2 separate regions of the Homo sapiens genome follow, and region 1 is linked to region 2. Evidence: fine-mapped expression QTL. A gene starts in region 2. The other region holds a variant in brackets. All regions are shown on one strand. Distances are from middle to middle. Region 1 overlaps LZTS1 (leucine zipper tumor suppressor 1). Region 2 holds the start of LZTS1 (leucine zipper tumor suppressor 1).

Region 1 (5,368 bases), 52 kb before region 2:
GGTGCCTGGAAAGCCACACCCTCTGGTTCACGGTGGTTTCAACCCTCCCTTCCCAGCACCCAGCCCAGGGCCTCAGGGTCTATGGCTTAAAGAAGAGTGGTCACCGAGGTCAAAGGTCACTGGCTGTCCAGAGGCTGCTCAGCTCCCATTTGCAAGAACCAGTAAACAGGGGCTGGGCCCCAGGGGCTGGCCATCACCCGCCACTGGCTCTCAACCCTTGGATTCTCCCTCTGCCCTCCTCTGGCTGTGGCAGGGTCTCCACACTGCTGGGCTGCCTGTCTCTCCCCTCCTTCCTGTGGCTTGCCGGGGCTGGGACAGCCCTGAGGTTTCAAAGCCAGCTTCCCCGCGGCTCATTCCACCCCTACACCTCTGCGGCCAGAGGAAAATAGCTCAGGTTCTGATGGGGCTGGTTCCAAGGCTTCTGGTCATATATGGCTTCTTTCTATTTCCAAGGCATTCCAATGTGTCCAGGAGGAAAAAGAGGTTGGGATGAGAAGCAGAGGGGAGCCGCTGTACTTGCTGTGGCCACCTTCCCTGGAGGAGGGGGAGAGGATATCTATTTCGAACAAAGGCCAAAGTTTAGGGAGCCCTTAACCAAAGCAGACAGACCCCTGGACCCATCTCCTGGGAAAGCCAGAGGAGTCAGGGCCTGACGTCTGGTGGGCTGCAGGGCTGGTGAGCACTGGGACATCAGAGAGGGAAGGAAAGGCCATCCTGCCCTCCCCTCGGGGGTCCTGGGTCTGTGTCCCAGGGAGTGGCGTCTCTCAGAGGGGTCTGAATTGCTGAGCAGGGGGGATGCACGGGAGAGCCCTGCCTCCCAGTGCCAGGTCCCCAGACTCGCCTTCCCAGGCAGCCCCTCAGATCTCAGTGGCTATGATGTCCTCGTAGGGGATGTCAGCCCCTTCCAGGTCAACCTCCAAGGGCTCCCCGGCGCTGTCCCCACGTGCCAGCTGCTGCAGGGCCTTCTCCAGGCGCTGGTTCCGCTGGTACATGGCCACGTAGCTCTGCTGCAGCTGTTTCTGGTACTGAATCACCTTCTCCTTCTCCTCCTTCCACACGAGCCGCTCATGCTGGAAGCCCGAGGACATCTGGTCATGGCCTTGCCGCTCCTCCCGCAGCTCGGCCCGCAGCCGCTCCAGCTCCCGCTGCAGGGCAGGGACGTCCTCGGGGAAGGTGGGCGGCCCCATGTCGCGGGCCAGGGCGGCCTGGGCCCGCAGCTCCTGCAGCTCCTGCTCCAGCAGGTTCACCTTCTCCCGCAGCAGCTCCGCCTCGTTCTTCTTGCGCTGCAGCTCATTCTCACAGACCTCCAGCTCCAGGCCCTTGGTGCGCAGGGCGCCCTCCAGGTCCTGGGTCCTCAGCTCCAGGCCCTCCAGCTTGCCCCGCGTGTCCTTCAGCTGTGCCTTGAGACCCAGGATCTCGCTAGCCTTGGCGTTCACCTCCGTCTGGGACTCCTTCAGCTGCTGCTTCAGGAGGGAGATCTCGCCTGACTTCTGGCACACCTGCCGAGGGTGGGGTGGAGACAGAGTGCCAAGAGGTGAGTGTCCTTACCCAGGGAAGTGACAGCTCAGCTGCCTAAAATAACCAAGCCACTCCGGATGCGGTGGCCCGGTGTTAGGCATTCCAGCCTTTGTCCAATCTGAAAGTAAGCTGAACATTGCTGTGACCTTTTCCCCAGGTTATCGAGCTAGGCTATATAGTAAAATGATAAAATAATAATAATCATGTATAATGACACATAGTATATTATTATTGTTATTATTTGAGAAGTCTCGCTTTGTCACCTAGGCTGGGGTGTAGTGGCGTGATCTTGGCTCACTGCAACCTCCGCCTCCCCTCTGATTCTCCTGCCTCAGCCTCCCAAGTAGCTGGGATTACAGACACCTGCCACCATGCCTGGCTGATTTTTGTATTTTTAGTAGAGACGGGGTTTCCTCATGTTGGCCAGGCTGATCTCGAATTCCTGACCTCAAGTGCTCTGCCTGCCTCTGCCTCCCAAAGTGCTGGGATTGCAGGCGTGAGCCACCACGCCTAGCCACACAGAAGTATATTATTATAAACATACTTTCACTAATAATTTGTAGTGTTATTAAGTGCCAAGCCATACATTTGCTCATCTATTCCTTACAACCCGATGAAGTAGGTACTATTAGTAGTCCTCAATTTACATCAATGAAACTGAGGCACAGAGAGGTTATGATAGCAAATAGCTGGTGAAGTGACCAGCCTGAGGGCTAATATATATATATATATATATATATATATATATATATATATATATATATATAAAATATAAAGTATAAGAGTAGAGATTTGATCCCAACAGTTTAATCACTATACCCCATTGCCACCATGGCTAATGTATTTACAATCACCTGGATCATAAGTGGTCAAGCTGAGGTTCAAAGCCAGGCCCATGCCTCAGCCATGACTGTGTCACTCCCTTCGTGGCATGAATACAGGGTTGGCCTTGGAATGAAATTCTTGGTCCCAAGCACGCATCCTGGGTAGGGTCGGATTTTCTCCAGGACTGTGCAGTGTTTCACTGAGGGCAAGGGGAAATTTCTACTGTGAAAGGAAATGTGAAGGTGGCTTCCAGGCTAGTTCCAAGAATCCATTCTGTAGAGCCACATGCTCTGGACTTCATTCACTCTTAAGATTCAGCCAGACTGGCCTTGGTCTCCCATGACCCCAGATGGCCAAGATCCAGAGACACATGGGTCTAACCTGTGGCTTCGGTTTTCATCATTGCTCTTGGCCAAATTTTGATGGGGGATAGGGGTGGAAATAGAGAAGAAGAGCAAGAGGAGAAGACAATGATTCCTCGTTTGACAGATGTGGATTGGGCTCTGCATCCAAGCCAGCATGATACTAGTCACTGGGTACAGCAGTGAATTTGTGAGGTAGTCTTTACTCCAGTAGACAGGAGAGAGGAGGGCTGGGTGCATGCAGGGGTGAGGTCAGAGGATGTGGGCATAAACGTCGATGACGGAAATCAGGCTGACACCAAAACCAATACCATTGGTGTTAAATGGGGGTGATACAGCTGCCAGCAGTGGGCAAGTTAAACCACTGGTTGTTGACTTGCACATAGCCAGGGGTTTGCGTGTAGACTGAGA[G/T]TTGGACTCTGAACTGGGGGTGAGGCAGGCACGTGGACAGACCAAGCTGGGTGCGAGCATGTAAAGAGCCTCAACGATGGGCTTGAACTCCATGAGTCATCCAGACCACCAGGCTGGTGAGAAAAGCTGCTTTCCCACTAATAGATGCAGAGGTTATGGGGTTCTCCAGCACGGTCAGGTACAGATGCCTCATTTCCACGTGTGACCGGGTGAGTGAGTGTGTGTGAGTGTGTAAGTGTGTGAGTGGGGGACTCTTTACTTCCTCTCCTAGGTTTCCATCTCAGCTCACCAAATAGAAGTTCCACTTACACTTCAGCAAGGAGTGGCCACTTCCATCACTGAAACCTGCCACCAATAGGGTCCCTCTTACTAGTGGGTGCAGTCCCTCCCTCCAAAGCAACAAATGCATTCTGTGCTCTCTTGGGCCCCTGGCCCCGCCTGAACTCAGGCACGGCTTGTTCTTCTTCTGAGCCTCCTGGGAGCTGATGGAAGGGAGGTCAGCCCACAGCCTGGCTGGGCCTTGGTCATCTGGCTTCCGGCTTCATGATTTAATGGCTCACTTGGGAAACTGAAATCTAGGAGCCATGAGGGTGATGGTGGGGACAGGAGGAAGCTCAGATGTAAGTCGATCCCCCAACATGGTTTGCAGGGAGCCCCTTCTTTGGGTGATAAAGCCAGCACATTAGCCCCGCTTGCCTGCGCGGTCTGTGTTTGCACGCTATTGGCCGGCACCAGAAGGAGAGGGGGGTACTGGCGCCAAACCGCTGACCACCCAAACCCATGAGCCCTGTGTGGCCTCACCTCCCACTGGGTCTCCTCCAGCGCGGGGCCGAAGCTGGTCTTCTCCCTCTCGTAGGACCTGAGCTTGGTCTCCAGCAGGTCCTGCTCCTTCATGAGGCTCTCGAGCTCCTGCCGGAGCTGCCGCTTCTCCTGCTGAAGCTGCAGTACCTGCAGGTGCAGGACCTGCTGCGCGCGCTGGCTCTTCTGCGAGGCCTGCTTGAGCTTGTTGCCGCCTTTGGGCTCCGGGCCCTCCAGCTCGTCCCTGCAGCGCCGCGGCCGCTCCTCGTAGGCCAGGCTGGAGGCAAGCTCCTTCTCCTCAAAGCTGCGCTGCAGCTTCTGGAGGGCGCCCTCCCTCTCCAACAGCTTCTGCTCCAGCTCCTGGATGCTGCACTCGTCCGTGGAGATGGGGGAGCGGACACACGAGGGGCCCTTGTCTGCCTTGTTCGAGTGGCCCAGCTTGCTACCTCCGTCGGAGAAGGACAGAGCCTTCAGGCTCATCATGTTGCTGTCCTGGAGGACGATGCCCTGGGTGATGTTGTGGGCGGAGCCCCCAAAACGGCTTGTGGGTCCCACGGGTGTGACCAGCGGGTCCAGCTGGTAGCTGCTGCTGGTGCTGTGTGTGGGCAGGCTGGACATGGAGTTCCGGCCGGAGTCTGACAGCGCCCCAGAGCACAGGCCAGGCTTCAGCTCCTGCTCCTTGGGCTTGTCTGGAGGGGCGGGGTGCAGCTGGTGGCTGGCACTCTCCGGGGAGGAGTGCAGGATGGCTCCTGACCGTGGCAGCACAGGCTTGAAGGCTGTGGGCCTCACTGCACCCTTCTCGGAGCCCTGTAGAGGAAAAGGACCGCGGTGACTCATGCCTCCCCTGCGCGCGCATTGCACCCTCCCTCCCCAGGCACGCGTGCCGACCTTGAGCCAGTCTGGGCTCTCTGAGCGCACGCAGCACCCCTCTTGGTCAATTGTCTCAGCAGACCTTGCCTGTTGCTTTGAAGCAGCTGAATGTCATCTCTCTTAGGAAGGAAAAACCCTAATGGCGACTTGGGCACTTTGTTCTATGAAATAGCAACCTGCCACCAGCTTGCCCCAGCCCTCCCGAGGTGATAAATACCATCTTGAGGCTCCTGCTCTAGGTCTCTGTGTGGGGCAAGTTAGGGCATCAGGCTGGCCGAGCTTGCTGTCCCTCTTTAGGTCCATCCCTTCTTCCTGTTCACTGCCTCTTCCATTAAGCCTGGAGCAAGGACACGGACCTGGCCTCCTTACAGGGTTGGGAGGCTCACTCCAAATCACGATCCTTTTTTAAAACTGTAATTTTCCCTGGTAGAGTGCTTCACAGTTTACAAGCCCCTTAATTTGAAAAGCTGAATGCTCTATGCAAACATAAGAGGCTCTTTCCTAGTAAATCAAAGCCGGGGATTCATTTCCCCAGGGCAAGGGGCAGAGGACTGAATAGGAAAATTGATTTCAGTGTCCACTCG
Region 2 (5,368 bases):
GCGACAGAGCAAGACTCCGTCTCAAAAAAAAAAAAAAAAAAAAAAAAAGTGGGAGCCAGTTAAGTGGAGAAGGTAGAGAGACCAGGCAGGAATATTCCATGCAGAAGAAACAGTGTTTCTATGTTCAAAGGTAGCAGAATAACATGGACAGAGCCAGGGTCCAGAACCTTACTAAGCTGATCTCAAATCCCTGCCCCTCGGTTTTGTAGCCTGGCTAAATTACTTAACTCTCCTCATCTAATAATTATACATACCCCGCAGGGCTGCAGTGAAAATTAAATGAGATAATGAATAAAAAGTTCCAGGCACACAGTGGATTTAGTGGCTGGCATTAAGTGTTACGGTATTATCCATTACACTGGTCTATAAGGTGCTTACCCATAGGTCTGTCATCATTACATTATTCATCTTCCTAGCCTCGCTGCACAGCTCAGAGCCTTGCATTTGGTAGGCGCCCAATGAATATTTATGAAATGAACGTTGAATAAGCGCAAAGGCATATAAATAAGTTTTCAGGATTAGAAAGCCATTTATATACGTCTGGAGCCCATGTATAGCTTTGCTATACACGCTGACCCACGGCTTCTCAAAACTGAAAGGCACATCTTTCCCTCACACACTCCCAAAGCATTGGCTTTCCCCAGGGCACCCCACGCAGCAGCACTCCTTCTATGACAGCACCCCTGCCCCACATCGACCCAGGCACACACAGCTGGGGGCACCTCCTGCAGATACACAAATGCACAAGCTGAACTGCTGAGACAGGTTTACCTCGTGAAGCACACAGCCGCTGCTATAAATGTTAACTAACAACCATCTTCAGCACATCAAATGTCCCGCCCTCCCTTTTGCTTGCATATAGACACCCACAGAGATGCCCGTTCTTTTTCTACTAGTTTTCTTCTCTTCTTAAGCAGAGTGAGCGCCCCACACTCACATCCACCCAGCTGAGACCTCTTACTAGGACTCCCAGTTGCTCCATCCTATTAGCTGTGGGACCTTAGGGAAAGCCTTTCCCTTCTGACGCCTCCGTTTCTTCACTGGCAGGCACAGAGAGCCCACCGCACCAACCTGGTAGTTATGTTGTGAGGATAAAGGAGATAACGTATGAGATAACGTCTATGATGAGCAGAAAGAGCCTCCAAAGAAAAGCGCTGGATAAATACAAGGTGTAACGCCACGCCTGATTAGCCTGCATGCTCTCTGCCCACAGACTTCTACCCACAGACTATGTTCCACTCCACTCTTAAACACAAACACCTTTCCCGTCTGTACATGCTATCTCTAATACCCATATGCGCACACTCTTCGGGCACCTCCATTCTCCCTCTGGATGCCTGCAGAAAATTGTTTTTGAACTTAGAGAAAGCTCAGGTTGCAAACACCCTCTTGCCGGTACCCGCAGACTCTTCTCAGGGTCTTGGTGCAGGAACTGCCAAGCAGATAGCTCATCTCTTTGTGGCTGGGCTCCTGGGCTCCCAGCATTCCTATTAGGCTGCACTTCCAGCAGAGTGTGGGATCCTTATTAGGAGCAGCGCCTGCCCGGCATGGTCCAGAACTCAGTGCCTCCTCAGTACTTTCCCAGCGCCCGGGACCAGAGAGTAGAGGGGCTGATGGCAGCGGGACGGTGTGGAGGGAATAAGTGAGACAGGAAACACTTTAGGAGGCCAGATCCCTAAGCACTTCTTATTCCTGGGAAATTGAAGACTGCGAAGCTAACAAGTCTGGAGCACTTTCCCAGGCCTGACATACTCGTGGGCGAGCACAAGGCTCATTTGCTCCACAGTTCAAACCTTTCCACTTGGAGCACGAAAAAGAGACATCACCTGGCCCTTGGTGTCTCGGGGATGCCTGTTGCTGCCAAGCTGCGACCTCTGAAGCCCCTCCAGCCAGAGCAAAGCCTGTGGCAGGGTGGAGGGGTGAGGTCTGGCTGCCTAGGGTGGCGGTGGAAGAAGTGAAGGTAGTGTGGGGCTGTCTGTGTGTGCATGGTGCTTTGACTAAATTCCTGAATTGCACATCCAGGACCGACCCCAGGAAGCTGCAGCCCCAGGGAGCCACTTAGACACTTCGATTTACCACCTTCCTCTCTAACCACCTCCGCCCGTGTGACTTATTCCTTGAGGGAAACCTTTCAAATCTCTGGCTGCAACGCACCGGTGTCCTCCCCACCGGTGTGGACACAGCTCATCTGCAAAGTTCCAGGCGGCGAAGTTCAGCGGCCCGGACCGACCGCCGGACCCTCTTCCTGCGGCCCCTGCTCCTGCGGCCTCGCGTCCCCACCTCCCACTTCTTCACCTCCGACACCAGTGTCACCTAACACTGACGTCCCCGCCAGGATCAGCATCGGTGCTGGGAATAGACGAACCCCGTCTGCAGGAGACACGAAGACAAAGACAGGAGGACAGACGCACAGTCACCTCCTCTGGGCCGGGCCGGAGAAGCGGCGCCCACCCTGCAGAGGGGAGACCCTGACAGCTCCACGCGGAGACAAAGACACCTCGACAGCCACGGACACAGACAGACAAAGACCGACGGACGCGCGGACGCACGGACGGTCCGGCCCGGCGAGGGGAAAGCGGTTTCCCGCAGCCAGGGCAGCAGACCCTCCAGGGGCGAGGAGATCCCCGGCCACCGCACCTTACCTGCCCCCTGCGCCTCGGGCGCACTTGAGACTTTTTTTTTTTCCCAGTGTTTCCCGGTGTGTTCCCGTCTCTCTTTTTCCAGAGCTGCTGAGCGGGCCGGGCCGGTCCCACTGCGCGGGATGCAGCTCCCGGCTCCCACTCACTGGCCGAGGCGGGCAGAGAAACTTTCGGCCTCCCCGCCCGGCCGCTGCCAACCCGCCAGCTCCAGGCGCGCCGGCCTCTGCGCGGGTCCCGGAGCCGGGGCGGGGCGGGGCGGGGCGGGGCGGGGCGGGGCCGGCCCGGGGCGGGGCCAGAGCCGGCGCCGCTGATTGGCAGCGAGCTGCCGGCAGCCTGGTCTGTGCCGCTCGGCGGCCTTTGTTCCGGGCTGACAGCTGGGGCTGCTCGCGACCTCGCGGCTCCTTCGCGCCCGCGGCCTGCGCGGGGTCCCGGGTCCCGTCTCTCTGCTCTCACTTCCATCAGCCCCATTGGGCGACCCTGCCCCCTCAGTCTTCCTTTCTTGCCTGGCCCCCTTTCTCCGATTGTTCCTGTCTTGCTCTTGTCGCATCCTTTTTTCCCTTTCATTACCTGAAATTCTTACTCCAGTTTTGTTTAAAATCCATTCCTTCTCCCGTTCTGTGTATGTTCCCCTTTCTTCATTACCCCTTCCTCTTAATCGCCAGTTTATTTTTCTTAATACCGTCTCTCCCGCTCCCGACTCGCACTAAAGGGCGTGTGTTTTGTTCAAGGACTGGACTAGCACCCAAGTGAGGGGCATTGCGAACCACACCAGGATTACAGGCTAGAGTCCAGAGCACCGGGACTCCCACTCCCAAAACATGTCAAAAGCAAACTTTTCCAGCTCTGAGGGAGCTGAGTTTCAGGTGACAGCAGAGGCCTGTTTCAAGTTTATAGCTATTAGTCTCACCCAGTCCCCTTATAATACTATCATTTTCTCAACCACCCTCACTTTTAACTTCTAGCAACTGAGCCAGGAGAGGATTCAAGCTTACAAGGTTTTGTAGGACAAAGGGTCAGTTAACCGGAGTGCTAGGTGCAGCATGAGGCTTGGGGGCTTGAGGGTGCACTGAGGCTAATCCTCTAAAACCAGGCTTGGCGGGAAGATGGCAGCTCTGCCCAAGGAGTGTTAGCCTCATCTTGAAAGAAGCCTGTGTGTGTGTGTGTGTGTGTGTGTGTGTGTGTGTGTGTGTGTTGGGGGGTGGGGGATAGATGTAATGGATTAGGATTGACATAGCCGATCTGATTATAAATAGCATGGGGGCCGGACGCGGTGGCTCATGCCTGTAATCTCAGCACTTTGGGAGGCCGAGGTTGGTGGATCACTTGAGGTCAGGAGTTGAAGACCAGCCTGGCCAACATGGTGAAACCCCGTCTCTACTAAAAAAAAAAAAAAAAAAAAATACAAAAATTAGCTGGGTGTGGTGGCAGGAGCCTGTAATCCCAGCTACTTGGGAGGCTGAGGCTTGGGAATTGCTTGAGCCTGGAAGGCAGAGGTTGCAGTGAGCCAAGATAGTGCCACTGCACTCCAGCCTGGGTGACAGAGTGACACCGTGTCTCAAAATAAATAAATAAATAAATAAATACAAAAAAATTAAATAGAATTGTGGTGGCAGGGGGGACAGCTCAAAGGAAAACAAGCCATATGGTTTCTGCCACACCCCTGCTCAAAACCCTGTAGGGGAATCTCACTGCCTTCGGTTGTTGACCCTGAAGACTCTGACCTTCGAATCTAGGCTTCCTGAAAGATGGCACCGCGAGGGTTTAAGAACACAGACAGGCTTCGCTGCTTGTTATTTGAGCCATTACCTTCCCCTCCCTCTTTCTCAGTTTTTCTTTTTCTTTCTTTCTTTTTTTATTTGTGAAATGAGGTAACAAGTCCCAGTGTAAATTCCCTGAAGGCAGGAACTTGTTCTCTTTTATTGGTGGCTGAGGGACTTGGTCTGTTTTATTCATAGATGTATCCCCGACACCTAGAACTTGCCAGGCAACATAGTAGGCACTCAATATGTATTTGTTAAATGAATGAATTTCTCATGTATAGGTTTGTTCTGATGATTAAATGAAACCCACTGCCTTGCGGTAAGTACATACACGTGGCAGTAATTACAAGCAATACGACAATTTCTAAGTGTCAACCCCAAAGGCTACTCAGCCTTTTCCTGAACATCACCTCCTTTTCCCCACCTTTGTATAAACCTGCCCCTCAGTCTGAAAAGCTTTTCTCCTGCTCTTCTAACTCTACCTCTCAAAATCTGAGACAAAATATGGAACCCTTACTCACACCTTCTCTTATCGTCCAGGGCAAAATAATGTCTTCTTTTTCTAAAGCGCCATGCTTCTTTGTGTTGCATTTATTGACAGAGAACATGTATTCTTGCTTGCTGGTGAGAGTATCTCAAGAATTTTAGCTGAATGAGTTAATATCGATCAAACATTCCAGCGCTTTAAGGAAAGAGCAGACTCCTGGAAGGTAGATTAAGGTATGAGGTGGGCTCCAGACTTCAAACTCATTTTCACATCGTCGGAGGTGAGATTCCATGGAAGAGACAAAGGACTCTGGAAGCCCACTTTTTGTTCTGGCCCTACTGCTGACTATATGCTCTTGGACAAGCCATGTCCCTAATGAGGCCTCAGTTTCCTCATCTGGAAAGTGGATGGTTTGGAGTCCCTGATGAGACCTCAGTTTCCTATCTGGAAAGTGGATGGTTTGGAGTCCCTGATGAGGCCTC

The links. PIP is the estimated chance that this variant, and not a neighbour inherited with it, causes the effect.
Region 1: its variant is the best candidate, but not a certain one, in a credible set for the expression of LZTS1 in whole blood (INTERVAL, PIP 0.87).

Annotation. Positions count from the first base shown.
Region 1 is chr8:20,248,865-20,254,232 of GRCh38, forward strand. LZTS1 (leucine zipper tumor suppressor 1) reads right to left here. Exons shown (of 4, transcript NM_021020.5): 3 at 3,918-4,721; 4 at 1-1,499. The coding sequence ends at 858. Among named protein-coding and RNA genes, the nearest start is that of LZTS1-AS1, 24 kb to the right of the region's middle. RefSeq lists enhancers at 160-701, 702-1,245. The variant G/T (reference allele first, on the strand shown) is at 3,117.
Region 2 is chr8:20,301,098-20,306,465 of GRCh38, forward strand. It overlaps LZTS1 (leucine zipper tumor suppressor 1), which reads right to left and starts at 2,866. Exons shown (of 4, transcript NM_021020.5): 1 at 2,643-2,866. RefSeq lists a silencer at 2,856-2,925.